Linked DNA regions of Homo sapiens: regions 2, 3 and 4 are each linked to region 1. The links come from fine-mapping of genetic effects on gene expression. A gene starts in region 1. Each other region holds a variant in brackets. All regions are shown on one strand. Distances are between the middles of the regions. Region 1 holds the start of DAAM2 (dishevelled associated activator of morphogenesis 2). Region 2 overlaps DAAM2 (dishevelled associated activator of morphogenesis 2). Region 3 overlaps KIF6 (kinesin family member 6). Region 4 overlaps DAAM2 (dishevelled associated activator of morphogenesis 2).

What was found. PIP is the estimated chance that this variant, and not a neighbour inherited with it, causes the effect.
Region 2: its variant is the best candidate, but not a certain one, in a credible set for the expression of DAAM2 in whole blood (TOPMed, PIP 0.71).
Region 3: its variant is the best candidate, but not a certain one, in a credible set for the expression of DAAM2 in whole blood (INTERVAL, PIP 0.89).
Region 4: its variant is the best candidate, but not a certain one, in a credible set for the expression of DAAM2 in whole blood (INTERVAL, PIP 0.54).

Annotation. Positions count from the first base shown.
Region 1 is chr6:39,788,223-39,796,265 of GRCh38, forward strand. It overlaps DAAM2 (dishevelled associated activator of morphogenesis 2), which reads left to right and starts at 4,154. Exons shown (of 25, transcript NM_001201427.2): 1 at 4,154-4,243.
Region 2 is chr6:39,825,852-39,833,894 of GRCh38, forward strand. The region is part of intron 1 of DAAM2 (dishevelled associated activator of morphogenesis 2); the gene reads left to right. Among named protein-coding and RNA genes, the nearest start is that of DAAM2, 37 kb to the left of the region's middle. The variant C/T (reference allele first, on the strand shown) is at 4,330.
Region 3 is chr6:39,690,034-39,698,076 of GRCh38, forward strand. All of the region lies in intron 3 of KIF6 (kinesin family member 6), which reads right to left. Among named protein-coding and RNA genes, the nearest start is that of KIF6, 31 kb to the right of the region's middle. The variant T/TA (reference allele first, on the strand shown) is at 4,092.
Region 4 is chr6:39,811,724-39,819,766 of GRCh38, forward strand. All of the region lies in intron 1 of DAAM2 (dishevelled associated activator of morphogenesis 2), which reads left to right. LOC124901487 (a long non-coding RNA gene) reads right to left here. Exons shown (of 2, transcript XR_007059917.1): 1 at 7,974-8,043. Among named protein-coding and RNA genes, the nearest start is that of DAAM2, 23 kb to the left of the region's middle. The variant C/T (reference allele first, on the strand shown) is at 4,481.

The DNA.
Region 1 (8,043 bases):
CGTGAGATAATAGAAGTCCAGGAGTCTTGTCCTGAACAGTGGAGGTTGTATCCCTTACTAGAAGTGACAGAAGCAGGATAGGCCCCAGGATCAGGCTCATGATCAAAATACCTGAAGTGTGATGTGTCTGTGCTGGATGGGGTCCAGTTCAAGACAAGTTGCTTCTGCCTTCTAGGCATTAACAGCACACCTGATAACAAAGTTTGACACCTCCCTGAACAGAGTCTAAGAGCCAGCAGATTGATACTGACCACATAAGTGGTAGGATGAAAAAGACTTTGAAATTTTGAGGCATCCTTTTCCTTCCAAGTTTCAGAAGAACTTATTGAGGTAGAGGCTTTCAATTTATTTTGCTTCATTTGAACTTTACAACAATACTTTAGGGTGGAATAATTTTCATCCCATGTTGTTGTTGAAGAACACTGTATTTTTTAGGATTCTCCTACTAATAGGAGATTCAGAGAAACAACCAACAGGATGTAGTATATGAATATTGAGAGAGAGAGAGACTGATTTTAAAGAATTGGCTTATGTAATTATGGAGGCCTGGTAGTCTAAAATCTGGAGGGTAGACCAGCAGGGGTAGGCCAGCAGGCTGGAGACCCAGGGAAGCATTGCAGTTGGAGTCCTGAGGCAGTCTGCTGGCACAGTTCCCTCTTGCGGGGTGGGGGTCAGTCTTTGTTCTATTAAGAATTTCAGTTGATTGCATGAGGCCTACCTACATTATGGAGGGTACTCAGCTTTACTCAAAGTCCACCAATTTAAATATTAATCTCATCCAAAACCACCTTCACAGAAGTATCCAGAATAATGCTTGATCAACTATCTGGGCACTGTGGCACAGCCAAGTTGACACATGAAGTTAACCATCACAAAAACTATGCTTGAGAAAGTTTCCTGCCATGCTGAGGTCACACAGCAGTGAGAGGCAGGGCTGGGATTTAACCAAGGTCTTTGGTTCAAACACTTGCTATAGTCCACAATAGTAAATCAGAGAAAGGTATATGTTATTTGCGGAGAGTCACATATTGATTAGATGACATATTCATGGGGCCTTCATTTATTCTTCAGAAAGTCTTTATGGAGTGCTATTGTGGTCCATGCTGTACTAGACTAGGATCTCTACCCCTGGAGAGTGAGCAAGTGACTTTTGTGAAGCCTGCTTCTTATCATGATAGGCTGGGCCTTGGAAGTATATAGTGAGCTTTGGAAGCCAGGTCAACCATAATGTGCTATTTGAGAATCTTTCATCAAGCAGGTACAATTTTCCAGATGAGTAGTGTGCTACAGAGGGCCTCACTGTATGTTCCGGGAACATTCCTAGAATATGCAGGTGAAGAAGGATGAAACCCCTTTCTTGGGAATCTTGAGAATAGGAGAGACTCCCACATTAGGACCCTGTGAGTGATAGGGCTGGGGGTAGGGAGTGAATCAGATGATCTTCGAGTGGGCCCTACTACTTCATGGACTCTTCAGGGCTTGCCAACCTCAAAAACAGCTCCTCAGCACTGACAGCCACGTATTTTATGAATTTCACTTGCTCCTCATCCCAATAGAACCCAATTAAGAATGCTTGGGGGCCAGGCGCAATGGCTCACACCTGTAATCCCAGCGCTTCGGCCTCTCGAGTTGAGAGAATTGCTTGAGACCAGGAATTTGAGATTAGCTTGGGAAACATAGCAAGACCACATCGCTACAAAAAAAAAAAAAAAAAAAAAAAAAAAAAAGGTTAGCAGGGCCTAGTGGCATGCACCTGTAGTCCCAGCTACTGGGAAGGCTGAGGTGGGAAAATCCCTTGAGCCCAGGAGTTCGAAGCTGTAGTGAGCTATCATCGTGCCACTGCACTCCAGCCTAGGTGACAGAGAGAGACCCTGCCTCCAAAACACTTGGGCAAGGATGGAGAGACTCCCCTCTCCCAGACCTAGAATGCTTGCTCCTCAGCCTCACTTCCCCTGTTTCTGTCCTCATGATGTCCCCAACCTGCCACCTCTGAGTCTCTGGCCCTATCTTTTTTTGTGTTTTTATTTATTTATTTATTTATTTATTTATTTATTTATTTATTTATTTTTTTGAGACGGAGTCTCGCTCTGTCGCCCAGGCTGGAGTGCAGTGGCGCAATCTCGGCTCACTGCAAGCTCCGCCTCCTAGGTTCACGCCATTCTCCTGCCTCAGCCTCCGAAGTAGCTGGGACTACAGGCGCCCACCACCACGCCTGGCTAATTTTTTGTATTTTTTAGTGGAGACGGGGTTTAACCGTGTTAGCCAGGATGGTCTCGATCTCCTGACCTCGTGGTCCGCCCGCCTCGGTCTCCCAAAGTGCTGGGAATACAGGCGTGAGCCACCGCGCCTGGCCAAATCTGATCTTCTCTTAAAGAGAGTTTGTGGAAGGCATCCTCTGTCTTCTGTATTACAATCTCACTGGTCAGAACTTGGTCTCATAGCAATTGTGAGCTACCAGGGAGTCTGGGATGGTGAATATTGTAGATTTCTAACTTCTTTAGTTGAGAAAGGCAAGGGAGAATGGGTTTGTCAATGGCTTCTGGAAACCTATTTGCAGGGTCTGCTGAAGAACAGAGCTCACCTTGCCAGTGGAGCCTTGATATGAGAGAGGGAATGGAAGGAGGTAAAAGTGGGGTATTATGCCAGGGAGAGCAATCCCACAGTGACCAAACAGCAGCTCCCTGCTGCAGGGCCCTCGGTGGCTTGGGTCAAAACAGCGTGGCCTCTACCGAGAGGCCCAGCCCTAAGACAGCTCCTTCTGGCAATCAGCTCTAACCAGCTGCTGCCAAAGAGGTAAACACATTCCAAGTCCTTGAGTCCCTGCTGCACTGTAACTGTGGTTAAAACACAACCCCGCCTCTACCAGTTTGGGCTAATGGAAAGTTCACTATAGTTGTGTTTTAATGATGATTTGCAATTATCCGTGCCCCCTCCCATTCATGGTGAGATGAATACCTAAACACTTATGTTGTCTAACCATATAAGTATTTTGCATCTCACGTGTATCATTTTAAGTTCATTTCATTCTCCAATCCTTGGGAACCATGAAGGATAACACATTACATTCTCTTTTTTTTTTTTTTTTCCTCTGGAAGATCATGCATTACATTCTCTTTTTTTCTCTGGAAGGGTGGCCCTTAAACCAAGCCATTTCCCTAAGCCCCTTTGGTGAGGTGGAGAAACAGACAACCACTAACACAGAACAACCACTGAACACCCAGAAAACTGTATACAGGTCATCACCCAGTGGGGGCACCATTTGCTTGCAGAGGGAGCTGGGGAAAATAGGAAACAGAGAAGATCAAATACTCCCCGTGAGGGTGTTGCCAATCCCAGAGAGGACAATTGCTCTTGACCAAAGCAATCTCTAGTTCAGTCAAGGAGACAGACCACAATCACATTTAAAAAAAAAAGAAAAAAAAAAACTAAAAGGAAATTTTAAAAGTATGAATAAGAGCTATTGTAAACTGCTCAAACTATGCATACAAGCAATGAAGTAAGATGAATTGACTGGCACTGAATTGGAAAAGCTATACAGAGGCAGGGAGTGTGGAACATAATTTAATAAAAATAAACTTAAAAAAATATATATACACTCCCAAAAAAGAAATGGAAAAGTTGTTAGGGCGTGGACCAGGACTCCTAATTAGCTGTTCTGTTGTGCCTGATTTCGCTCCTGTCTTGCCCAGCACCCCTTGGGACACACTGTCCAGTGCAGGGACACTTTGGGGAGGGACAGGGGATTCCTTGGCACCGGGACCTTCACCTCCGAGCCGGCCTCAGACCAGGCCATTTGCCCGTAGCCCAGAGGAGGAGCCGGGGAGAAACCCGCTGCCCAGGTGGCCACTTTTGCCTCTTTGACCCTTCCATGTTTCCAAAACAGAAGGGGCCCTGAGAACGCTCCCTGCCAAAGTGGGGAACAGCTACCCTCATTGTACGCCTCGCCCTGCCGGTGGCGCTCTCCCCCCGCCTGCGTTCGGTCTGAAAGTGTGAAAATTACAAATCCCAAGAAACTGCAATCAGAAGTCTACCTAGGGAAAATTCAGAGTAACCTTGCCATAAATATCCCGCTCCAAGACGCCTGACGTCAGAGCGGGGCGGGCGGACGGGCGCGAGGCCGGGCCTGGAGGGGCGGCAGCCGCGGCTTCCCGGGGATAGCGCGGAGCACGCAGCAGCGAGCGGAGCGCGGGCGGCGGCGCCGTACCTCGGGCTGCGGGAGCGCGGGCGCCCTGGGGTCCTCGGAGTAAGTGCGGCCGGCCCTGGCGCTCCCCGTCTTGGGGCCCGGGCCGCGGGGAGCCCTCTCCGCTGGGCTCCCACACTTCTCTCCCTCTGCTTTCTTTAGCATGCCCCGCGGGGCTTGGGGAGGCAGCAGCTCCGCAGGCTGGCGGTTTTGTTTCTCCAAAGTGTTTGCAGGAGCCGCCGACCCCGGAGTGGGCTCCCAGGGCCTGTGTGTGTGTGAGTTGTGTGTGTGTATGAGTGTGATTGCGTGTGTCTGTACTGGCACATCTGGACATAGGAAATGTCTTTGGAAAACTTTTTAAAAATGTTTTTTGCGGCTTTGAAACCTGACCCCTGGTTGTCACAAGTGGACAAACACAGAAGATACCCCGCAAAACTGACAACTTTTTGGTGGTGGCTTTTCCGGGTTCGGCTTGAACCTTCACTTGGCTGGGCTGAAGTCTTCACAAGCCCCCAGCTCCCACTTGCAGGCCTGGCCTCTGGCCAGTGGGCAGGGCAGCCGTAAGGTTCTTGTTCTCAGTGGCAGTGGGACCCTGGGCGGGGGAAGGAGCATCTCAGGAAAGGGGTCCCCGGACTCTGGGGCTCTCAGCACCTGCGGTCGCAAACCAACCTCATGCCCTGACTTTACCAGGCGTCGGGACTCTGACTTAACCGGGGAATGAGGGACTTGGTCTGGCGGCAGGTAATTTTGTGAAGAGGATGAGAAGGAAGAGGGGGAGGTGGTGGTGATGGCCAGGACGCTGTGGCCCTGTGTCCAGCCGTAGCTTGGGAGTGGGATGGTTGGTTCTGCCACATGGCCACGGTGAGGTACGTGCCAGGTTCTCCAGGAGTGCCGCGTGTGGTGCCCCAAACAAGATGCAAGCTCCTAACATAAAGAGACGTGTCTGAGCTGTGGGGTGGAGGAAGGGGGGCGGTGGGGGAGAGGGAGATTTTTATCAAAATTGAACACAGATTGCTGAGATCTGGGCTTGATTTAACTCTTCTCTCTCTGCCTCGGCCACTTCTCCACAGTTTTGGAGTGGATTTGGAACGTTTCTCGGAGGGTTAGAGGAAAATCACACCTCTCCGGAAAAGAGTCCCCATAGGTTTTCCCTTGATGCCCACGTGGGAATGAAAGCAGCTTCCCATCTTTAAAAAGTTCAAAGTCTTGTGTTTTCCCCCTTCTGAGTTTGGTGTTAGTTTCCTGAGTTTCTTTGCAAAGCCAGCTGAAGCGGGGGATGGATTTTCCCTAGGGCCTAGGGCGGAAAGTGTGCTCCACGGAGAGTAGGGGAAAAAAGCAGCAGTGAGGCTGTATCGATCCATCATCCCTGAGTAGCACAGTGCCAGGCACTGCCTGTCAATAGCTGGGTTCCACAAACGAGTGACCACAGACAGACTGAATTTTCAGCTTTGAGCTAGCCAGGTCTCTGGTTTTGTATTTTGCAGTAGAGCCAACCTACAATGTCTGGGTGGGAGGAAGATTACTGGACTCTCCCTCTGTCCTAGAAAAATGAGAAAATGAAGGGACAGGGAGGAAATCTGGATGTAAAAACAGACCCACAGGAAGTTAAGATTCAGGAAGGATTTTAGAAATTATATAAATTGAACCCCAGGGAAGCTCCATAAAAGATGGAGCAGGCAGCAATGTCAGAAACAGACTCATTTAACTTCAGGAGTACGTTGTCAACTGAAGTGTAATGAAGGAGGAGGAAATCATCCCATAGGCAATGTAAACAAGGGTGCATGTAAACAGGAGTGACTGGTCCCCATGAGATGCACATGCCTATGTGTTTTTACACATACATGACTGTGTGGTGATGGCCATGGCCTTAGACATGGGAGGATAAATGGTCTATTTCTTCATCTGTGCTGGGAACTCCATCTAACCCCCATTTCTTCCTTTATGCAAACAACTGTGCTATTATTGTCTTGCTCCCTGGTAGTTGCAAACTCTGGCTCCTAACTCCCAGCTGAGTTTTCAGAGCTTTTCCTCCAGCGCCTCGGATGCTGAGGGAATACTCGTGCCCCCATCAGGACAAAAAGAGGAGAGAACATTCTCCTGGGCATTAGAACTTAGAGAGTCAGGGGCTCAAGAAGGCGGAGGCTGTGCAGGCAAGACCAATAGGAAGGCCTGTAAATGATTTTGTTTTTGGTGAGCGTGGAGGAAGTTGAAATACTACTGCTTGCTGTGAGAACATGTTCTCTCCCCAGTCTTCTTTCCCGACTGTCTCCAAAGTTTTTGATGCAAAACAGATTAAACTCCCCATTACTAAAGAGCCTTGGATCCAGGTGTAAAGAATGAAGATAAAGGGTAAGTACAGGCAGTAGAGAAAGCATAGAGATAATGAAAGATGAGGCTTTCTTATTTGATTTTACTAGAGCCAATGGAAGTAACAAGTTTAAATGTTCTCATTCATTTCCATTATTTAAACATAGAAGACTACCCAGGGACAGAAGGGACCCCTCGGAACAGGATTCCCAGAAATACTCTTATCCCAGCATACAACTCCTCAGGGACAGGTGAGGGGCAAGAACTGGGTTTTCAACTCTTTCTACATGTGGGGTTTCTGGGAGTGCTGCATGTGGGATCAGTGGAGTCCTGATGCTTCTGGGCTTGTACTAGGAGACATTTCACTATGGCCGGGATGAATTCCCAGGCCATGGATGCCTAGGCTGACATTGAAGCCTTCTCATGGCTCATTCTATCAGTTCAATCTTCTGGCCAGCTCTTTGGTCATCTTTGAGATTAGATTAAGTAGATGGGATGCATTCCAAGACATCCTTGAAGGTCCAGAGGGCAAACACAGCTGGCAGAAAGAACAAGTTGAAGGATATCCTTGGCTTTGATAGCGGATGACCCTCTAGATCTCAACAGCCAGAGACTCTGTCAAGGATCCTGTGTCATTCAGCCCTAGACTTCAGAGGCAGCCCGACAACAATGGAAAGAGTGCAGATTTCTGATCAGCTGCCTGGAGAGAGAGAACTGTGACCTAAATACGAATTAGTAACCTGGGCTACATGACTTATTCCTTCTGAGCTTCAGCTTCCTCATCTGTAAAATAAGGATAGTATTTCCCTCCCCAGGTCATTATGAAAACATTTATGCACAAGAACTAAGAACAGAGCTCAGAATGTTATAAGACCCTTCATAAAGGGAGTGCTGTATTTTTATTTTTCAGTTTTTCAGCCATCACAAGCCAGTATTGCTTGGAAAGAACCTCTCCCCAAATCTAGCTACATATTTTCCATGATTGAAGGCTAGTGGGTGGAGTTTCTAGGGCTCTGATCATCCTTACTTCCTTCCTCTAGAAAAGGTGACCAATGAAGATATTCCATGAGCATCCCTGGTCCATTATCCTGAAGTGTGGGAGAAGAAACCAGGGATCCTGGATGTCTGGCCTAGAAATCACTCTTGTGTTTGTGCTCTTTAGGGAGGGAGAAGGACAGAAGAGCAGGTTGTATAAGTATGGTGGGGAGGGGAAAGGTAGGGAGGTGGGGGTAGGGCAGGAGGGTCAAGGACCAATTGGATCTTGAAGGACAAGCCTGAGTCAGAGAGCGGGTAGGCAGCCACTCCTTGTCAAGGGTGCTCAGGTCAGAGTAATGGGGGAATCTGATGGGTTGTAAAGAATGAAAGCTTTAGTCATTGCAAACATCTCCAGTGGGTATGGGGTGGGAGGCTGCCCCCTGAACCCTGATTGATACATTATCCAAGGGAGTGACTACTCCAAAGGAACAAAGGAACATCTGATGTTAGAGAGCAGCTGCAGGTCCTCTTGGCCCATCTCAAAGCTTGTAAGTTATCCTTCAAGTTGACATTTAAGATTT
Region 2 (8,043 bases), 38 kb after region 1:
ACCTCTTGGGTAGAATGGAATTGGAGGGAGACCCAGTCCTGCTCTATCATTGCTAAATGGCCCAGCACACATTATTTGGGCTTTGTGAATCTCTTAATTTCTAATGGGAAATGGGAATGAGGTTCACATTTTATGTGTCCCCATGGTGCAGGTGTGTTGGCAAATATGAGATAAGGCGTATTTCATGCCTAGTGCAGTGAACCTGGCCTCCTTCCCCATTGGACATGTGTCTTGGTCCAGCTTCTGCCTGCTGGCTTGGGATGTGGCTGCCTTAAAAGATAGTGGGGAGAAATGATAAACACACGGCTGGCATCTTCTCAGCTTAGGAGAAGAGCCCTGGGGAAGAAGCGATTGTGCGGCCTGCTCCTGGTCTCTGGTATAACTAGTTCAAATAACTGCCAGTTAGTAGCAGATTTTTTTTTTATTTTACTTTCGAGGGTCTTCTCCTTACCTGCTGGAACTCTCTGGGCTCCCTGCCATGAGTACTTTGTCATTCACAGCACAATCCCAAAGTGAGGGGCTGGGGCTATTCTAGGAAAGCAAGTCTCTTAAAAGGTGAGCATCCCTGTGGTGTCCTAAAGCTGGGGAGAAGCCACTTAGGGTTTTGGGGGACTCTCGACTCCTTCTCTTTCTCTCTTTTTCATTTCCAGTGGAATCCTCAGGTGATCGGTTGTGTAGCTGATATGCCCAATAGCTCCCCTTTCCTGGAGAACATATCCAATTTGCCTCACGATCCTCCTGAAATTCTTGAATCCCTGGACACCAGGCTAGTTTGTTTGCTTTTCTCCTTTTGCCAGTGATTTTTTTCACTTCATATTAGGACTGTTTGCACACAAAAATTAAGAAAAATGTACATAAAAAATCAGATGTGAAATGTGAAAAAGCATACTAATGGTAGGCAAATAATAATAATTAGTATGCATAGTCACAGGTTTCTGTAACTTCAACTTGGCAAATCCAAATGTCTTGGAATGACTGTCAGGAGCACCTTCTCTTTTTAAAGAGAAGTTTCTAAGTACCCTTCAAGCTTCAAAGAGAAAATCTGAGGTGAGGAAATCAGGAGAAGTTGGGAATCAGTTTCCTGGAGTATTTGAGAATATTTAAAGAGAGAGGCGGTGTAGCTTGGATCCTAGCAGGGCTCACAATATTTAGGGGAAATATTCATGAATGAATCTTGGCTAAGATTTTTGGAATTTTTAATTTTTGTTTTTATATTGCATTTTTGTAGTTGTTGTTTCCACTTAAGTAGAAACTCAGGAGAAACCAGGAAGCAAAGCAGAATTTGTCTGCGACTGTTCTGTAGTGGGAGAGAAGAGTTCTGTGCTGTGAATTCGAAAATTGGGTTCTAGACATGGCTGTGGCATGAGTTTGCTGTGGGTCCTGAGGCAAGTAGCCTGCTTCTTGGGCCTCAGTTTCTCGCCTGTAAAGCGGTCTTTAAATGGTAGTACCTTCATTCTCAACGTCTTGTGCATGCCAGCAGCTGTATGAGGGGCGTCCTGCAGATCATGTCGGAGAAAGGAGGAGTTGAGTCCATTTGCACACAGGTGGGGAGTGTGACATCTCAAGAGGGGAAGGCACAGCTATCCAGGAGCTGAAGTGGGGCGGGGGTAGTCTTTTTCAGAGTCTGATTATTGGGTCTGGGTTTGTGGAATGGTGCTTCACCACCCCAGGGAATGGTGGCCCTCACTCACGCCTTGGCTCTGTGTGTGTGGGCTCATGGAGGTGCCCCCGGGCCTGGTAGGATGCAGGGGCCTGGGCTTCAGAAACAGTGGCTGGAGGATTCTCCCTGACTCTTTTCCTTGGGGTCCTCATGCCTGGATTACTCTTCAGGGTCTCTGTCTTTGTGTGAAGTGTGATACCCCTTGACCCCCTTGGTCTGAGAATGAACTCTCTTAATGGACCAAAGGGGAATCTGGAAAATCACAAACCCAGTTTCAGAATTCAAGGGGTATAGTCCCTTCATGTCTGAGCCCTGGAGTACTTCTTGGGTCATCTTGCCAGCTGCCCAAGCTCTGCCTGCCCTGCCGCTCACACTTCTAACTCCTGCCCTCCCTGCTACCTGAAGGCTCATACCTGGGGAACGCCTCGCTGTCCTTGGAGACTCAGCCCAAAAATCACCACACCTACAAAGTCTCTCTAACGCCTCCTCCTCCCCACCAATTTCAGGTAGTAGGGTTCCCTCTCACCTGTGCTCCCACAGGCCTGTCCCTGATGAAGCACTGAGCACAATGTTTGAAAACCACTGTTCTGTCTGACTCTCGCTAGACTATTAGCTTCCAGAATGCAAAGCCCTGACTGGTTCAGTTTTGCATTTCTAGTATGTCTTAGTCCATTTGTGCCAATATTCCACACACTGGGTAATTTATAAACCAAAACAACATTTCTCATGGTTCTGGACTTTGGGAAGTGCAAGATCAAGGTGCCAGCAGAGTTGTTGTCTGGTGAGGGCTGCCCTCTGCTCCTAAGGTGGTGTTTTGTTGCTTCTTAATGAAAAACTGTAAAGAGCATAGGTACTCCTTGCATTTTTGCTATTCATTCATGCAGCCAATATTTAATAAGGACCTACTATGCATTAGCCCTTGCCAGTGGAACTATGCTATAGTTTGCATGTCTGTGTTCCTTTCCTTCCTCTGGAGGGGAAGAACACTGTGTCCTTACATGACAGAAGGAATGGAAGGGCTAAAAGGGCCTAAGCTAATTCCCTCCACCCCCCTCCGTCTTTTTTTTTTTGAGACGGATTCTTGCTCTGTCGCCAGGCTGGAGTGCAATGGTGCGATCTCAGCTCACTGCAGCCTCTGCCTCCCGGGTTCAAGTGATTCTCCTTCCTCAGCCTCCCGGGTAGCTGGGACTACAGGTGCGTGCCACCATGCCCGGCTAATTTTTGTATTTTTGGTAGAGACGGGGTTTCACCATGTTGGCCTGGATGGTGTTGATCTCCTGACCTTGTGATCTGCCCGCCTCTGCCTCCCGCCTTTTTATAATGCACTAATCCATTCATGAAGGTAGAGCCATCATGACTTAATCACTTCCCAAAAGGCCCCACCCTTAGTATTATTGCAACAAAGATTAAGTTTCAACATATGCATTTTGGAGGGAACACAGACATGCAAACCATAGCACAGTTCCACTAGCAGGGGCTAACGCATAGTAGGTCCTTATTAAATATTGGCTGCATGAATGAATAGCAGAGATGCAAGGAGAATTTATGCTCTCTACAGTTTTTCTTTAAGAAAGAAGCAAGAATGGTTACTGTTTGGATAATTCACCCAGGGACCAGCTTCACGGGATGCTGTTTAAACAGATAAATCCAATTGGCATCTCTTCTTTGTATACTTTTGTTGATGGCAGGGGCCTGGGGAGCGGGCTGTGTGTTCCACACAGGGTGTGTGGATGGGCCTGCACATGCGCCTATGACTGGTTGTGGGTAGCAAGCACAGAATGATCCTGTTTTTCTGTAAATACTGAGCCACAAACATTGGCAGTGACTTTCTGGCCATTATCCTCAGTGGTGTGTGATTCTTGCGGCTTTTCCCAGGGTGTACCAAAGGAGTGTGACTGTGGTGACCATCGATGGGGAGGCTGGCAGCACTCAGGGTGATGGACAGAACCCCATGGTTGGTTCCCTCTTAAGAGGCTTGTGTTGGAGGCTGAGTGATACCTCATTTGGCACCAGTTGGAGAGTTTATAGCCTGTGAGGGTTCTTACACTTACCAAGAGGAAATTGGGCAATAGAAATTTATGTTAATGTCTGTGGGATAACAAAAAAGCAACATGTCCCTGGGTCAGTAGTGATCTTACCTTCAGGGGTTTGTTTATTCATTGGCACACTCAGACATTTCTACTCAGTGCCTGCCATATATGCCTGTCCTCATTCTAGGGATGCAGACTGAACCTGGTCCCTGCCCTCAGAGGGCTTAGTTTCTGGTAAAAGTGCTTGAAGATTGGGAGGATGGGAGTTGAAGCTGGCACCCTCCCCAGAGCCGTTCTGAGCCGGCCCCTTGGTGGGAAATATCATTTCTCCATTTATTAGCTCCTCTGTTCTCCCCCAAGTTGTTGCTGGCCAGAAGCACCTTGGTACCACCCTTCTAGATTTCTCATGCTCCCTCCTTCCCCACGCTGAGTTAGAGACCCTTCATCCATACTCTCATCATTCCCTGTACAGCTCCACCAAGATACTTCTGCCCACTACCCCGGCCTGCTCACATTTGTACCCCCTTTCCGACTGGGAGATTTTTACAATCAGGTCTGTGTTTTATTCACTGCCGCATCCTACAGTGCACAGTGTCTGGCCCAGAGTGGGGGTTCATAGATGGTTGTGGAGTGGATGCC[C/T]ATGGGGCAATGCTGGACTGCATTTATTTCATCTTCAGCATTCACACTGAAGCCTGTGTCTATCTATTTTCATCTTTTTCTGGGTCCGTCATGGAGAGGCATGACTCTCAGAGAAGTTGCTGAAAAGCTGGGGCATTGCGAGAAATTGGAGAAATCTGGGAAGCCACAGGCTGGAGTCGCTGGGGTCCGGTGAGTCCTCTGTGACTGTCATTCCACGCACTCCCTCCCAGGGAGGGAGGCAGGTGGGCTTCAGGGCTGACAGAGTGGGGCTCTGAGTCCAGACTGTGCTTGTGCTGAGGCCTGCGTCTTCTTCATCGTGAGTGGGGACAAGTGATGCTGACAGACAGACCTACCCCTGTGGCCCTCCGGCTCAGGCAGTGCAGCTGGGCCAGCAGGAGAGAGGGCCGCCTGGGAATAGCTGGGAAGCAAGTCCAGGCCTTGGGCCCACCTCCCCCAAGGCCAGGATGTGGCGTGGGACCCAGGCCTGCGGAGGTTCCCACCACTCTGCTCCTGCACTCCCAAATGCTCCAGGCCCAGGCAGCAGGAGGGGGTGGCGAGGGGCTCCAGCTGCCTGGGTCAAGACTGCATCAGGACCAGGGCAGCTCTGCAGGCACACACCTCTGACATTTAGCCTCCACCTGGATAGCTGCCAGTGGCCCTGCAGTCCGGACCAGCTTTGCATGGGGGAGGAGAGTCAGGGATTAACCATTTCAGGCCCTTCCTCCATCAGGCAGAAACTGGTCCTCTCAGGTCGACCATGTACCAAGGACCGGAGTGGGCATATTTACAAATGTTGCCTCATTTAATCTTCACATCAACGTGAGGGTGTGGGCATCATCTCCATTTCTCAGATGAGTAAACTAAGGCATGTGGGGAGTTATGTAACTTGCCTAAGTCTACACAGTTAGTAAGTTTCATATATTCCTTCTTTATTACAAGGGCCTATTATGTACCAGGTAGTAATTCTAGTCACTGCGGATACAGCAATGAATGATAGACAAAAATGCCCCATGGAATATACATTCTTGTGGGAGGGATAATGAATACATGGGATGTATAGTCTGTCAGGTGGTGGTAAGTCTACGTGGAAAATGAAGGGAAGGGAGATGGGAGGTGCTGGGAGCGGGGCTGCTATTTCAGATGCCCTTGAAAGACCTCACTGAGAGGGTGTGAGTTATTCACACTTAGTGCTGAATAGGTGCCTGGTGCTACCCTAATCACTGTACCTGACTCACTAAATTAATCCCCACAATTAATCCCCACAATCTTTGAGGCAGATTACTATTATTATTCTCATTTTCACATGGGGAAACTGAGGCACAGGGAGGTTAAGTAACTTGCCAAAGATGACACAGCAGATAAGAAGCAGCTCTAGGATTTGCACCCAGGAAGTCTAACTCCTGAGTTCTGGCTCTTAACCTCTGTGTGGCCTCTGCCAGGGCCACAAAGACAGTAAATGGGTGGGAAGGTCAAGAGGCTTGTAAGACCCCACCTGAACAGTCCAGGTCTGTGGCCTGGGGGGTAGGCACGCTGAGGGACAGGTGCACTAGGGGGCAGGTGCACTGTGGGGACAGGAGCACTGGGGAGGCAGGTGTACTGAGGGGGCAGGTGCACTGGGGGGGGGCAGGTGCAGTGCAGGGACCAGAGCACTGGGGGGTAGGTGCACTGGGGAGGCAGGTGTACCGAGGGGGCAGTTGTACTGAGGGGGCAGGTGCACTGGGGGGCAGGTGCACTGAAGGGGCAGATGCAGTGCGAGGGCCGGGGCACTGGAGGGTAGGTGCACTGGGGGGGTAGGTGCACTGGGGGGTAGGTGCACTGGGGAGGCAGGTATACTGGAGGGACAGGTGCACTGGGGGCGCAGGTACACTGCGGGGACAGGTGTACTGAGGGAGTAGGTGCACTGGGGGAACAGGTGTACTGGGGGGACAGGTACGCTAGGGAGGCAGGTGCACTGGTGCTCACTCCTCTGCAGCTCCCTTGGTGAGGAAAGGGTAGAGGGGCCGACAGGTCAGTTGCAGTTAAACCTGGGTGAAAGTGGGGCTTGACTAGTTTGTGTCAAATAAGGAGAGGATGAGCTCCCCAGTGAGGGGGTCCCAGAGGCTCCCCTTCTCCCCTCTCCTCCTATGCCAGCCAGCCTCCCTGAGCCCTCCGAGGACTCAGATCTGAAACAAAAGTGGGACTGTTTTTTGCTCTTGTCCTCTTCTTCCCTTCCTTTTGTCTATCTGGGAATAACCCACTTAGTGGTGGTGATGATGATTGATGACATAATAGCAGCTCATATTTATTGAAGACTTACTAAACTGGGCAGCGAACATGAATAACGACACTCAGCTGTGCAGGAAAAAGTAATTGATTCTTATAATGGATAATTTTCAATGAAAAACTTAGTGTGAAAAATAAAGGTACTTTAGTCTCTGATTTAAATGAGTTGCTTTGGAGCGAGGTCCCATCAAGTCAAAATTCAAACTTCCTGTGAGGGCAGCTCCCAGTGCCCCTCCCCTGAATGGTCTGGCTTCCTGGGGAAGCTCCAGTATTTTCCTGGTGACCAGGGAAGGGCCTGGGGGCTGCAGGGTTTCTGCAGTTCTCCACGGAGCTGTACCTTGCTCTCTCTGCTGCTTGGGCCTCTGTGCTGAACTCCATTGAAGGGGCCAGGTCTGGTCCGGTCCCCAGGGCTTCTGAGGGTAGACTTGGCACCCACTGCTGAAGCTTAGGTCTTCCTCAGGCTCCTGGCTCTGCCAGGACGTCCACCCACTCCTGGAGGGCCCAGGTGTCCAGTGGCTGGTCTGGGATGTGAGGGTTCTAAATGGGTGGGCCCGAGGGCAGCCCCCAGGTAACTTCCTCAGCTGTTGCCAGCCATGTTTGCTCAGAGCTGGGTTTAGGCAGGGTTTATCCACGTGACCTTTCCCCAACCCTGCACCCTATTCTGAAATTCTCCAAGTCATTGAGTTATTTCTAATGACACTGCAAACCACCCCCTCCTCTCTTCTCTGGAGGTGGGGAAGGAAGTGGAATCCAGGGCATTTACTTTCTTTTCCTCCTAGTACTAGAAAGATTTTCTTTTTCTTTTCTTTTCTCTTTTCCTTTCTTTTCTTTTCCTTTTCTTCTGCTTTGCTTTGCTCCCTCCCTTCCTTCCCTTCCTTCCTGATGGGAGTCTCGCTCTGTCGCCCAGGCTGGAATGCAGTGGTGTGATCTCAGCTCACTGCAACCTCTGCCTCCCAGGTTCAAGTGATTCTTCTGCCTCAGCCTCCCAAGTGGCTGAGATTATGAGTGTGCACCACCACACCTGGCTAAGTTTTTTCATATTTTTATTAGAGACAGAGTTTCACCATGTTGGCCAGGCTGGTCTCGAACTCATGACCTCAAGTGATCCACCTGCTTCAGCCTCCCAAAGTGCTGAGATTACAGGCTTGAGCTACCACGCACAGCCTATAAAGGTTTTCTATTGCCCTGTCCTGTCTAGAGGAGACATCATTACCTTGTATCAACTGTTCCTCCCTCTATGCACCATTTTGTTCTGGAAGCTATCAGTCTTCTTTTCCCAGGGAAAACAAGGTCCTGGCTTAGCTCTGATATTAGAAGTGTACAAGAAAAGAAAGAAAAGGAAAAAAAAGGAAACACTGGCATTTTCCAGAGGTAAATATGTTGGGAAATATTTTAAATATTTTCCTTGTGAAATCCTCTGTATCTGGCAAGCAGGGCTATGCCTGAATTCTC
Region 3 (8,043 bases), 98 kb before region 1:
ACAAGAAAGTGTGTGTCATTTGCTAAATAGGGAAAAGTCAAAACATTTCTTGCTATTTATATAATGTGAATATTATTACATTTTATTAGGATAAACTATATAATGTAACATTTACTAATACAGTGATATAAACTAAAATAATGCTTCCTTTTATCTGTATGCCAAATGATTACATAATTTAAAACTTCCCGAAGGGAGTTTTCAATAATATATTATAGTGAAAGAGTGAGAGTATCGGAAAGGGTGGTAGGCACTGATGCAAAGTAACGATGTCAATGGCACTAGGGAAATAGGAAGAGGACAATTCTGGAAAGTTCCTGCATATGAGTCCTTGAATAAGGAACTTATACTTCATTCTGCAGACAATAGTAAGTCACTGAAGGAGGGAAAGAGTAGAATTGGTACAATATTTCTGAATGATTAACCAGGCAGTGCAAGATGGCCTGGACAGGGAGTGTCTAGAGCAGGAGGCTGGGTGGGCAAGTGGGTGGGCAGAAACCTGAATGAGGGCAGTGTAGGGAACAGACAAGCAGGGACAGACAGGAGGGAGAAGGGGAAGGGGAAGTAAAGATGAGGAGGGAAGGAGGGAAAGATCCCCCTGCGGAAGAAGAATGAACAGGAATTGTTATTGTCCAGGACAAGAGTAAAGGAGGACTCAAGGTAACCTAGGAGTGTCAAGCATAATAAACACTGCTGTGCCACCAACAGGAGACAGCTCAAGAAGAGTGGCCAATGGGGGACTGCAGGTAAGCTGAGAAACCAGCAAGGGGAGAACAGAGCAGGATCCAGATGGAAATGGCTGCAGGCAGAGGAAAATGCAGCCACAGAAGAGTGTCCTCTGCGTAGTTCAGTGCACTGATGGAGATGTGAACTTCAGCAAAGGAAATTTACAGACAAGGTTGCAGGCATAAGGGTTTTACATAGGGTTGTCCAATAAAATACAGTTAAATTTGAATTTCAGAGAAACAATGAATAATTTTATGGGTATGACCCATGCAACATTTGGGACATATTTATACTAAAAACGTGTTCACCATTTATCTGAAATTCACATTTAACTGGGAGTCCTATATTTTTCATTTTCTAAATCTGGCAACCCTGGTTGGAACTGAATTAGGAGATAAACTTCTGAAAAAAGCAAACTTAGCTGGAAACAAAGCTCCATGTAGTAAGGATAGTAAAGAGAAATATTTCTGAGAGAAGAGTAAAGGAAGAAAGGCTAAGAAAAAAGATACACGCATTTGAGGTAGCAGAAACGGAAAAGCTCCCTTATGATAACCTTTCTCAAAACAAGTCAGTGTCGAAAATGCTCAGTGTGGAGTTAAATTAAGAGCCTAAGGGCAAGTGAATATATAAAAACTTCTGCTCACTTTTGTAAGTTATATTTCTTGGAGGAAGGCTAAAGACCTTGAAGTTCCTTTCAACCCTAGGTTTCTGTGACTCAAGCTTTTCATGTATAAATGTTTCAATATTTTTGGCTACATAATTTTTTATATTATTAGAATTTCTATGTATGAAAACAGAACTGTGTTATTTAATGTAGCCATATAAATGACAATCTTATAAAGATTGCTTGGTGGTGATTCCATTAATAAAAAGCAAAATGACTATTTAAGTTTTTATGAGAAAAACATGTTTACATAAGTAAAAGGCATCATTAAGAGAAAAGCTATTGTTAGAAGAAAATATTAGCATCAAATGGAACAATGAAAATCTGTCAGTTTAAAACATATCACTTTGGCGGAAAAATACTACATAACTGCACTGGTGCCTCATCCTGAAGACCTTGGGAACTGCAGACTTGCTGGGTTGATCCAGTTCCTGTAGGACTGAGATAGAAAATGAGATATGAATTCTCACTTCTTACAGTCACCGTGTAACACCGTGGCCAATTTAACAGAATACAGGATACATTTCTATTAAAAAACAAAAACAAACCAAAAGGAACAAATCAAGACTAACGTGTTAATTAACAATACAAGGGAAAACATTTGGAAGATACTACTCCAGATAAAAACATAGATTTCTTCACCTGAACGTGGGAGGCGGAGGTTGCAGTGAGCTGAGATCTCGCCACTGCACTGCAGCCTGGCAACAGAGCGAGACTCCGTTTCAAAACAAAAACAAAAACATAGATTCTTCAGCATTCAGGAAATAACTCTTTACTGTGTACAGAAAAAACGTAAATCATCATCCTCAGAACATCTCAACCTGGTCAATAAAGAACTTGCAAACAAACCTGTCTCCCCTGCCCTGATTCTTCTCATTTTTATCTTCCAATATTTTGGTAGAGCAAGAAACCAACAAAAGCTCAAACTTAAAACTAAAGAAAATCAGCTTGTCTGTACTCACTTTTAAACAATCACCTAACTTTCCCCAAAGTAAATATTGCTATTCTTTTCATAACATGATGGTCACATGGAGACACTGTGCAGTCTGGTTTTGTTTGAGGTCACTATAATAGATATTCAGAATCACGCACAGGAAGAATTACATTGTGGAAGCTTTGCACTCACTTGTTGCTGGTACTTCTAATCTTAGGTTGACAACATCAGGTAAGTTGCCAAGTACTTCCTCAATAAGCTAAAACTGTGATAGAATGATGGTTATATCATTGAGATACTTCTGAACCTCCATTCATTACTTATTTTGTCAAGTAATTTCTAAGGAGAAACATTTTTACCATACCTATACTTTGATAAATTTACTGATGGTTAATTAATAAACAACCCTATTGTACTCTTACTCGTCCTTAAAGGATTTGCAATACATGAGATGAAACAGAAGAGTTATCCTCCATATTTTTTTTTCATTAGAGAAGAGTATACTGTACTTAATATAAAAAAGCCTCACTTTTAAAAGTCATATAGCAATGCACCTGCTAGTTAGGATAGAAATGAAGTAGCCTCTCAGCATCAAAAATATAACTATCATAAACAACTCTCACCTATCAATTCCCTCAGGGAAGAATGGATTCACTTAGGTGGTAATGAAAGGGCATGACTCAGTAGTGGTCACACATGGAACTGGCGTACAGCTGCGCTGCCCAGATCAATGTACGCATATGCCCCTGGGAGGTTGGTACTATGAGAATATCCTCCAGGAGCCACTTTGTTTTAGCTCGTCTGACTGAGGCCTTAAACAAGGAAAGGAAGAGAGCTGTTAAGGGCACCACAGTAGCACAAATCCAGAGATATTAAGACTTTCCTAACTCAAGTCACAAGGTCTTCCAGCTCAATAACTAATGCTTGATGCATATCTTAGGAGATAAAGTGTGAGGGAGAGATGCCTGGCTGCCTCCCAGTAGTTATTCTCTCCTTCTCTAGTAACAAAACCCCAGATTTTAATTGGGTACACTGTCACCCAACTAAAAGAATTACATTTCCCTGAGTCACTTACAGCTTGGTATTGCCATGTGACTAAGTTATGGCTAATGAGCTCTATGTGGTGTGTGTAACTGTCAATAATTATCTTTAAAAAGGTCCTCAGGGACTACTATGAACATCTCTATGCACATAAACTAGAAAATCTAGAGAAAATAGATAAATCCTAGAAACACACAATCTCCCAAGACTGAAACAGGAAGAAACAGAAATCTTGAAAAGACCAATAATGAGTTCCAAAATGGAATCAGTAATAAAAAAAAAATCTACCAACCAAAAGAGTCCTGAGCCAGAAGGATTTATAGCAGAATTCTACCAGATGTACAAAGAAGAGCTGGTACCATTTCTACTAAAACTATTCCAAAAAATTGAGGAGGAATGACTCCTTCCTAACTCATTCTACAAAACCAGCATCATCCTGATACCAAAATCTGGCAAAGACACAACAAAAAAGAAAACTATAAGCCAATATCCCTGAAGAACATAGATGCAAAAATCCTCAAGAAAATACCAGCAAACCAAATCCAGCAGTACATCTAAAAGTTAATTCACCATGATCAGTTGGATCTTATTCCTGGGATGCAAAGATGATTCAACATACACAAATCAATAAATGTGATTCACCAAGTAGAATTAAAAACAAAAACCATATGATCATCTCAATAGATATGGAAAAAGCATCCAATAAAATCCAACATCCCTTCATGG[T/TA]AAAAAAAAAAACCCTCAACAAATGAGGCATCAAAAGAATACCTCAAAATAATAAAAGCCATCTATGACAAACCCACAGCCAACATCATACTGAATGGGCAAAAGGTGGAAGCATTCCCCTTAAGAACTGCAACAAGGCAAGGATGTCCACTCTCACCACTCCTGCTCAACATAGGACTGGAAGTCCCACCCAGAACAGTCAGGCAAAAGAAAGAAATAAAAGGCGTCCAAACAGAAAAAGAAGAAGTCAAATTATTTCTTCACTGATGATATGTTTCTATACCTAGAAAACCTTAAGGATTCTGCCGAAAGTCTCCTAGACCTGATAAATGACTTCAGCAAAGTCTCAGAATACATAAATCAATATACAAAAATCACTATCATTTCTGTACACCAATAACATTCAAGCTGAGAACCAAATCAAGAATGCAATCCCATTTATAATAGCCACACACACCAAAAAAATACCTAGCACTAGATTTAGCCAAGGAGGTAAGATCTCTACAAGAAGAATGACAAGACACTGCTGAAAGAAATCATAGGTGATACAAACAAATGGAAAAGTATTCTATGTTCATGGATTGTAAGAATCAATATTACCAAAATGTCCATACTGCCCAAAGCAATCAAATAATTCAACACTTTTCCTATCAAATTACCAACATCATTTTTCACAGATTTAGAAAAAAACTATCCTAAAATTCATATGGAACCAAAAAAAAGCTCAAAGAGTCAAAACAATCCTAAGCAAAAAGAATAAAGCCAGAGGTATCACATTACCCAACTTCAAATTATACTACAAGGCTACAGTAATCAAAAAAGCATAGTACTATTACAAAAACAGACACACAGGCCAATGGAATACAATAGACACTCCTGAAATAAAGCTGCACATCTACAACCAACTGATTTTTGGCAAAGTTAACAAAAATAAACAATGGGGAAAGGATACCCTATTGAATAAATGGTGCTGGGAAAACTGGCTAACCATATGAAAAAGAATCAAACTGGACCCCTACCTCTCACCATATACAAAAATTAACTCAGTAGACTAAAAACTTAAATGAAAGGCCTCAAATGATAAAATTTCTGAAAGAAAACCTAGGAAATACCCTTCTAGACACTGGCTTAGGCAAGGAATTTATAACTTAAGTTCTCAAGAGCAAATGCAACAAAAACAAAAATTGACGATTGAACTAAAGAGCTTCTGCAAAGCAAAAGAAACTATCAACAGGGCAAACAGACAACCTACAGAGTGGAAGAAAATATTTGTAAACTATGCATCTGATAAAGGACTAATATCCAGAATCTATAAGGAACTTAAAGAAATCAATAAGAAAAACACAAACAACCACATTGAAAAGTGGACAAAGAACAAACACTTCTCAAAAGAAGATATACAAATGGGCAACCAAGATAAAAAATGCTCAACATTACTAATCATCAGAGTGATGCAAACCAAAACTACAATAGGATACCATCTCACACCAGTCAGAATTGCTATTATTAAAAAGTCAGAAAATAACAGATGTCAAGGTTGCAGAGAAAAGGGAATCTTTCTACACTGTTCATGGGAATGCAAATTACTTCAGCCCCTGTGGAAAGCAATTTGGAGATTTCTCAAAGAACTAAAAATAGAATGACCTTTAGACCCAGAAAACCCAATACTGGGTATATACTCAAAAGAAAACAAATCATTCTACCAAAAAGACACCCACACTCGTATTCTCATCACAACACTATTCACAATGGCAAAGACATGGAATCAACACAGGTGCCCATCAACGGTGGACTGGATAAAGAAAATGTGGTATATATACACCATGGAATACCACACAGCCATAAAAAAGAATGAAATCATGTCCTTTGCAGCAGCATTATCCTAAGTGAGTTAACACAGAAACAGAAAATCAAATGCCACATGTTCTCACGTGTAAGTGGGAGCTAGGCATTGGGTATACAAAGACACAAAGATGGGAACAATAAGCACTGGGGATTCCAAAAAGGGGGAGTGGAGGGGAGGAAGGAGGAAGAGGAACAAGAGTTGAAAATCTACCTGTTGGGTACTATGTTCACTGCTTGGGCAATGGAATTATTAGAAGCCCAAACCTCAGAACCACGTAATATACCCATGTTATACACCCGCACATGTACCCCTGAATCTAAAATTTAAAAATAATAGTACTAAACATTCTCTTTAAAAATGAGGGGCTCCAAACTTCTTCTCCCACTTTTTCCTTCCTGTTGCCTAGAAGGTGCATAATTGAGCTGGAGTTCAAGCGGCCATCCTGTGTCACAAGCTGATGTGATAAAGATGGTGCAACGGCAAGGGAGAAGGAGCTTGAGTCCCTAGTGACCAGAAAGCTGCCAATACAGCCTTGGACTGCCTACCTGCAGGTTTCTTGTATGTGAAATAGTAAGTGGTTATGACTTTAAGTCACTATTGTCTTAAGTTTTTCTTCACTGATGAATCTACACCTCACAGATTTCAACTAGAATGTGTGTGTGTGTGTACAGTATATAATATATAAATATATATATTATAAAACAGCTAACATAAACTAGGCTCCTACTAGGTGTCAGGCTGTAAATACTTTGAGATATTGTGTATGTCTGTGTATCTCAAAGTTTGTGTGTGTGTGTACAGTGTAAATACTGGACACACACACACACACATCTCAAAGTATTCACAGCCTGAAACATAGTAGGAACCTCATACATGTTAGCTCTTTTTTAAATCTAGTATAACTACAATCAACTCAAAATGTATAGGTATCTGTAAACCTCCCATGGTTAGACAGATGGCAGAATTAGAAAAAAAAAATTGTTAGATGCCACAGGTACAGCCAAAATGTGAACAAGCCCTACTCTTTTTTATTTTCTATAGTCATCTCTAAAAGTCCTCAAGCCTGAAATATCTCCTAGGTATCTTCTAATTGATTTGGGTTTGTTTACTTTTCCTATTAACCCAAAGCGGAGGTTTATCTGCCAAGTTTGTTTTCTTATCTCTCTTCTCTGGCATCACCAACTTCTGTCCTTTGGTGAAACCTCTCCCTATTTCCAAATGGTGCAGATAGGACTGACAATCAGGTTGAGGAAGCCAAGGTAATCAGAGTGCTCCATGCCTCTAGTGACAGTGATTGGTCTGGGGATGGGGATGTGACTCCAGAATCCTCATATGGAAATTCTACTGAAGCTAGTAGAAAGGACAATGTCCTGTCTTAAGGGTCGTGGTTCATAAGCCTATCAGGTTGGTGCTGTCGGCCACATGGAGGAAACTGAGACTGAAGTCAACATATTTTTAGACTTCCCAGTTATGTAAGCCAATAAATTCCCTTTTGCAGGGGGTTTCCATCTCTTGTCATTGAAAAAGATCTCAAGACTAATATTAGACTAACCATTTTTCTTTATCCTTTCTTTTTTTTTTTTTTCTTTTGAGACAGAGTCTTGCTCTCTTTGCCAGGCTGCAGTGCAGTGGCATGATCTCCACTCACTGTGACCTCCGCCTCCCAGGTTCAAGTGATTCTCCTGCCTCAGCCTCCCAAGTAGCTGGCATCACAGGCACACACCACCACACTTGGCTAATCTTTTTTTTGTATTTTTGGTAGAGATGGGGTTTCTTTGTGTTGGCCAGGTTGGTCTCAAACTCCTGACCTCAGGTGATCCACCTGCCTCGGCCTCCCAAAGTGCTGGGATTACAGGCATGAGCCACCGTGCCCGGCCTAGACTGATCATTTTTCTATGTGACCTAACAAGTTCACTGGCATATTAAGGATAAAACAGATTGGGAAACTACAGCATCAACAACTTTTCAGTGTCTATCTTAATATCTCCTTAGCACCTTACATTGTTTACTCATATAATATTACTCATATAATTATTAATATCACATGGAAATTGGGAAATCTTTGCAGCATGACTTCATCTAATATAGATATGAGACTATTGCCAT
Region 4 (8,043 bases), 24 kb after region 1:
CATGGTCTGTTTGCCCAGGTTACTAGAGCTCTTGGCAGGGGATGTTGGCGGGGGGATCTGAGAAGGGTGGCAGGAACTCAGCCCCTGGCTTTCTCCAGGATGGCTTGAGAACTCATGGAGCTCCTTAGACACCAGGGTTGGATGGTTTGCCTAATGTTTACTGAGAAGCCAGTCCCCTTCCTGATAATTGAGGGAACTGAGACTGAGGATGCAGGGCCCCTGTAGACCCTCTGTGATTTCATTCTGGTGACCTGGAACCCACACATTTACTCCTTGGACTTAAACACTGAGGCTACAGAGAATTTGTATCTGGGGCATAGGGCAGGGTGCATAGCCCAAACCTGCCAGAACTAACAAAGGCTACCAAAGAGCATGTTAGGAGGGGAATATAAGCCTGGTTGCTGCGGACCCCGGGAGCTAGGTCTTCCCACTCCCTGGCCAGACCCACGGCAGTCAGACCTTCTGCAGCTGTTCTCCTATGAAGGGTTTTATACACTCCTACTCTTCAAATTCAAATTCTCTAAATAATACCTACCATGTATGGAGGGCTCACTAGGTGCCAGACACTGGGCTAAGCCCTTGCACATTTCAACACATCTCATTCTAACAGCTCTGCAAAGTGGGTATTATCCCATTTTATAGAAGAGGAAACTGAGGTTCTGAGAATTTAGTCAACTTTCCTGAAGTTGCACATCTAGTTTGTGGCACAGAGGGGATTCCAAGTAAGGTGTGCCTGACCCTAAGACCCGTGCTTTCTGTACCGTACCCCAATCATTTCACTTCATGATGAACTTGACAATCGACTGTACCTGAATTCTGCTTTGTTATAACTCTCTAGCCTCCACAAACACTCAGTATCCCCCGCCTCCCCACCCTGCCCCTGTCAGCCTTCTATTCTTAGTGTGGATGGTGACCTCTGACTGTGGAGTCAGCAGGTAGCTTTTGGAGTGCCTGTAACTCAAACAATTTAATCTGACATCTCAATCCTGCCACCCTCCCCTCTGTTGCAAACACACCCTCAACTCCCTTTTCCTGCCTGCCTCTGTCCTCCTCCAGCTCCTGTGAGTTCTAGAGGGTTTCCAAACCTAGGATAGAGCCAGCAATTCATTAGTCTTTGTCCTGTTTCCAAGAATCCCAAATATATAAGAATTCCTCATTGAAAAGCCAAGCATTCTTGGGGGAAAGTGTGTGTCACCAAGAAAGCACGATTCCTCACATTGGGAAAGGGGATCGTAGTCCAGTCCAGGAAAATAAGTGTAGATTTCAGTGCCAGATGGAAGTGGATTGGCTCTCCCTGACACCTCCCCTCCCCAGCCACCCACCCCTCACAAACCACAACCGGGGAGCTTGCCTTCCCAGTTCATCTGAGGGCACTAACCGGATGACATTTTCCTCTGGAGAGAGAAGGAAAGAAGAGGCAGATTGTGTGTGTGTGTGTGTGTGCGTGTGTGTGTGTATGTATGTGTACACAGTTCTCCTCACCTACAGGCCACTTTCTGTGCAGTTCCTTTTGGCATGGACCACTTACTGTTTGAAGAGCCCTCTAGTGAGTTTTTGGGGTGGGGGTGAATCATAGGCGATGAGTCTGGCTGCTCTTCCACTAGGAGGAAGCATCTCCCTCCTCTTTGGGGCAGCTCAGCTTACCAGAAGATCTAAGGTAAATGAATAGGAAATCTGCTCGAAAGCATTTAGAAAGCAACCTCTTATGGCTGCGTTATGCAAATTCATAGGCTAGAAACAGGACAGGCACCAAGAGGAAGCACGTGAGCTGAGTGAGCAGAGTGTGTGTGGAGTGAGTTATAATCAAGAAAAGCTTTAGGAGGATATGAAGTTGCTTTTTTTAAAAAAAATTCTCTCCTTTATTATAAAAGAAACATGGATTTATTATACAAAATACATAGTAGCAGAAGACAAAAATAAAATTAGTTCATGAGCCCATCACGGGGCACTGAAAAGAGACTTTGATCTTTCTGTTCCTCTGCCCCCTTTCCCACAGCTTCCCACCTGGCCACAAACAACACTTGGAGAATCTGCCTTCCCAGGTCACTTAACATTTGGCAGTTAATGTTTCCAGTCTTTTCTCTCCACATACATTGTAAAAGCATGGTTGAATACATATTATATGTGCAGATGTTAGACAGTTTTGTATTGTGGTTTTATCTTCTGGTTAGTATTACCAACTTTGTAAATGAGGAGATAAGTCAAGTGAGGTGTGGAAAAGGGTCATGGCCACTGTTTGGTAGAGAGGAAACTGAGAACTGGGGGAAAGGGGCCCTAAAAGACCAGCTGATACCCTGTGGGATGGAGGATCTTTTAAATCAAGCTTGTTCAGCCCGTGGCCCATGGGCTGCATGCGGCCCAGGATGGCTTTGAATGAGGGCCAACACAAATTCATAAAATTTCTTAAAATGTTATGAGATTTTTGCAAGGTTTTATTTTTTTTAAGTTTTCTTTTTCTTTCTTTCTTTTTTTTTTTTTCTCGCTCATCAGCTATCGTTAGTGCTAGTGTATTTTATGTGTGGCCCAAGACAATTCTTCTTCTTCCAGTGTGGCCCAGGGAAGCCAAAAGATTAGACACCCTGTTTTAAATGACAGAAGATGAAGAGCATCTAAACCTCAACCTCCCAGCTCCTATGTGAGTTGGGAGCAGTAACAAAGCCAGCCTCCCCTTTGACCTTGGCTTGGTTTCCCTGGCCACAGATGGAGCTCTGATGCCTTTGTTGGGGTTGGCGTTGGCGTTGGGTGAGCACTGTGGTGAGCACTTCACATACAACTGATTTTCTGTTTTACAGATTTGGAAACTAAAGTTTAGAACAGCTAAGGACCTGGAGTAAGATCCATGTGGCACAGCAGCAGAGCTGCAATTCAAACGCGTTCATCTTTCTCCTAACCACTGTCCTAGGCAGCTTCTAGTTCCATGGAAGAGAATGTCTCCTGATTCCTCACTTTCTGCTAAGCCTTTCTGGATTGACTCACCAAAGAACAAGGGGTGCCCTCCCACCATTTCTGTGGAACTCAAATGCCTGAGCCCTGCTGTATGGAGTGTGTATCAAGGAGATTTGAGGAAATAAGTAACCTCAGCATCTGTTCTCACCACGTGGCTCTTCCTCCAGGAAGTTTTCCAGGTTGAATTCCACTGGATACTCATCCCTCTCCTCCTCCATTCTCTTCAGTATTAGCCTGATTCAATTCAGAGCCACTCAGTCATTGATATTGTGACCAGATGTCACCCGAGGAGCCCTGTCTTTGAGATTCAGAATAAATTAGCTGAATCTCACTGCCACAAACAGAGGGCAGTGGTTCTCAAATTGTGGGACCTTAGACCAGCAGTATCAGAATCACCTGTGAACTTCTTAGAAATGCACATCCCTGGGCTCTGCCCAAGGCTTCTGGATCAAGCTCTAGGGGTGCAGCCCAGCGATTTGTGTCTTATCAAGCTCACGTGGTGATCCTGGTGCACACTGAAGCCTGGGAACTGCTGGTCTGGAGATTCCAAAATAAGTGGTGGTGGCTTATATTTTTCACATCACCTCTGGCTCTGAGTTCCTATTTCCACTGAATTCGTTAAGATTATTAACTACCCCTAGGTGACAAGCATGGTGGCCCAGAAATTAACATGAACTCTGGAGCCAGACTGCTGAGATTTCAATTCTGTCTCTAAGGCTCACTCATTGTATGGGTGTCCCTGAGCAAGTGGCATAAATTCCCTCTGCTGCAGACCTCTTATCCCTAATATGAAATAACCATGGTATTCCCCATAGGGCAGCTGTGAGCCTTCAATGAAACTGTGTCTGTTAAACACAGTTTAACAGTGCCTTACACATAGTAAGCTCACAGGAAACATTAACTCTTATTGGTGTCATGCAAACCACGAACTCTTCTGCACTGTGTTGACCCAGATGTGGAATTACTCCCATACCCCTGGTTTACACACACACACACACACACACACACACACACACCGTTTACACAAGGCTTCATGAATGCGGTGAACTTTATGGAGGTCTGGGGAGACCAAGGGTATTTGTATTACAACAATTCAGAATTGAGCACTGGATAAGCTTATTCTAAAATAGATTGGCCAAAGGTTACACCATTTGGTCTTCCTCCTCTCTCCCTTGGTGCTCACAAGCAACTCACTCAAACAGGTCCCCCTCTTTATTATGTTGAGTAATTCAGCTGTCTTTACTCTCCAGCCCCACTCCTCAACTTTGCTCCTCAGTTCACTTTGCAAATCCAAAGACAACTTCTAAAGAATGGACCTTCTACCCTGATTCTCATGCTGGATTCCTCCCTCATAGGGAGAAGAGTAGCAATGAAGATTTATTTTTCCTACTGACATGAACTGTGCTACCTCTCAGGATGCTTTAGTGATAGTTTTGGTTTTTCTCTATAGGTATATGAATCACACGTTGTATTTTTTCTAGTAAATACTTGAGAAAGAATTTGATCCAGGAGTCTGGGGCAGAGCCCAAGGCTG[C/T]GCATTTCTAACATGTTCACAGGTAATGCTGATACTGCTTATCTGAGGTCCCACAGTTTGACTGCAATGTATTTATTTTTGCAATGGGGCATATTGCTCTATAAATGTTCTCCTGCTCTTGTTCTAAACCTTCACACCCTCATAACTAGGGATTTGATCACAGCCACAGGTTCTCAATCTTGATACTAGGCCACATAATTCTTGGTTGTGGGGGGGCTATCTTTTGTATATAGGAGGCTTATTAACACCCCGAGCCTCTACTCAGTAGATCTCAGTAACATTTACTAGTTACGAGAACCACAAAACTTCTCCAGACATTGCCAAATGTCTCTGGGGGCAGGGGGTGTGATGGGTAGCCACCCCCAGTTTTGAGAGCTGCTGGTCTCAGCTAAATAGTTCCTGTAATAGTTCAAGTCCATTATATCTTATTCTACCCCACACTTTACCTCTGTATTTAAGTTCAGGGGCCTGGATTTATTCATTGAGAAGAAAGGTATGGAGGAGTCCCAGCAGCCTCTGGATCACCCTTGATTTCCAAGGAGAATCATCAACACTTTGTGACTGCTTTTTCTCAAAGGCTCCACACTTAACCCATCTGCAGTGGAGCCAAGGACATCCAGGTCTGTTTCCAGTACCGTCTCTAGTCCTGTTAACGCTCCCCGTGTGGCGGGAAACCTCACAGGAACTAGGGAATGGCCTTTGGTTTTTGGCTTATAAATACTCATCATCACATTTCTTTTGCTGAGAAGTTTTTCAAAATCGTGTTTAACATTCTTGTTGCCGTAGTGGAAACTTTTGTTCTTTGGAGGGCTTCCCATCCTAGGCCCAGGTCAGATTCCTCAGCAGAGCTCTGAACATTTTCTAGGGAAGTTTCAGCAGTGAGATCGCACCTTTGATGCACTTACACAACTGTGGCTGGATTCTGGGTTAAGACTCCCAGGATCCCAACATACACAACAGGGAAACTATGCAGCTGGAGGAAGGGCCATGTGCCTGGGAGTCTTTCTGGGAGGCCAGGATCAAAATCCTTTTATGATTCTATTACTTTTCTGGGTTTCTCTCCTTGCCCCCTAATGTCTTAAATCTAAGATAAACAATGAGCACTTCAGTCAGTAAAAGATTATGCGTAATAACACACAATCTCCAAATTTCAGTGACTGAAAACAACAAAGGTGTATTTCTTACTCATGTTATCTGTCGGTAGTGGATCAACAGAGGGTCTCTGCTTGTTTTAGTCCCTCAGGAACTGAGGCTGGCAGAACAGGCCCTGTCTTCAATGTTGGCAGTTGCTGTTCTAAAGGAAAAGGGAGTCTGGTCCTCACAATTAAAAGCTCTAGACCACTAATGATGCTTCTGTTCATCAGTGTTCTATAGTGAAACAGAACCAATAGGATCTCTCTCTACATATATCTGGATTTGTTTTAAGGAATGGGCTCCCATGGTTGTGGGACTGACAAGTCAAAAATCTGCAGGGTAGGCCAGCAGGCTGGAGACCCAGGAAAGAGCTGATGTTGCAGCTCAAGACTGAAGGCAGTCTAGGGGTAGAGTTCCCTTCATTGGGGGACCTCGGTCATTTTCTCTGAAGGCCTCCAACTGATCAAATGAGGCCTACCCACATTATGGAGGGTAATCTGCTTTACTCAGAGTCTACTGATTTAAGTGTTCATCTCATGTTAAAAAAAGAAAAAATTCTGGCTGGGCATGGTGGCTCACGCCTGTAATCCCAGCACTTTGGGAGGCCGAGGTGGGTGGATCACCTGAGGTCAGGAGTTTGAGACGAGTCTGGCCAGCATGGTGAATTCCCAGCTCTACTAAAAATACAAAAATTAGTCGGGCATGGTAGCACACGCCTGTAGTCCTAGCTATTTGGGAGGCTGAGGCAGGAGAATCGCTTGAAGCTGGGAGGTGGAGGCTGCAGCGAGCCGAGGTGGCGTCACTGCACTCCAGCCTGGGTGACAGAGTGAAACTGCATCTCAATTAAAAAAAAAAAAAAAAAAAAAAAACTTCACAGTAACCTTTATACTGGTATTTGACCAAATACCTGGTCCCATGGCCAACTTGACACATAAAATTAACCCTTCATATTTTCAGCGAATGGGCCAAAGTTAGCCACATGACTCCACCCAACACAAGGACCCAGGAAGTACCATCCTCTGTGTGTAATCGGGGGTGGGGACCAACAATATTTGACTAAGCACCAACAACTAGAACAACTATAAATTATTTTATCTGAGGATGAAAGAAAGTATTAATCTGTGGTATTTTGACGTTAATGCATTCTACTAACACAATGCAGAAATAGTGTTAGACTTAGCTCTACCTGCTCAATTCATTCGTAGCAGAGGTCATGGAAGAACATGGGTTGTAGCATGGCCTGGCCTCCAGGGTGACTAAATTTGAACACTGTTACTGAACATCGTCCTGTTATTCTTCTGTATTGTTTTCTTTATAACATGTTTTCTGTGTGTGATGTTGCATTTAAAGCCCATTTGTGTGCTGTGTAATTGAAGTATGCCTTGCAATTAATTTGGCCTTTGTGACCTCCTTTTAGTATAAATTCTTTAGGTTCCTTTTTCTTGCTTGGATCGGAATCATCTGAAAGGGCTCAGGAGCCAGCTGTCGCTCTGTGTTTTTTGCTACTGAGTCACTGTTTCTGACAAGCCTCTCCTGAGTGTGGGCCCTCATTTCCTTGTCTAGAGTGGGGTTGAGCAATGTGATTTCTAAGGTTCCTTCTGGCTCTGACATTCTGTGTGCCTTTGTTCCACACCCTTTTTCAGTGATGCCAGTGCCAGGGGGTACAGCCTCAGGGATGTATAACAGGGTTTTCCTCCACAAAACTGGCAGAATTGTTCTGGGTTCTTATTTGAAAATGTGGCATGTGGCCTCTCATCAGTGCTTTGGCCATTTTGCATGCACTAACTCACAGAGAATGCAGGCTACACCCCAGCTGGTGAGCATCACCATCATCTCTATGCCCACTGGCTTTCTGTTTGGCTGGAGGGAAGCTGAGGACAAGAGGATGTTAGGTTGGAGCACAGGGAGGCCTGTGGAAGGCAGGGACGGTGTAGAGTCTGGCCCAGCTGAAAATGGGCTTGGGGAGCCTGGCCAGTCCTTCAGGTCCATCTGGGCAAACCTAGTCTTCAAAGGGCAGAGTCACAAGGACCTCAAATGCTACTTACCTCCTCCAGTACTAACATTTGACACATCTAATGCCTATTCATTGTTGTGAAGTTCAAATGAGGTAACTCATGAGGAAGTGCCCACAAAACTAAACACTTATGACACACTCTCAAACACACTCTCAAACAATAAGAATTACTATCATGAGCTGCCTGACTCCACAAGATTTTAGTGCTAGGTGCTAGGGACAGAAAAGTGAAAAAAAGATGCTCAGTTAATTAGCATACAATGTGATGCTACCTCTAACAATAGACTTTGGATGATGTCTTAGTTCAAGCTGCTCTAACAAAATACCATAGATTGGGTGACTTACACAGCAAACGCTTATTTCTCACAGTTCTGGAGGCCGGAAAGTCAAGATCCAGGCACTGGCAGATTTGACG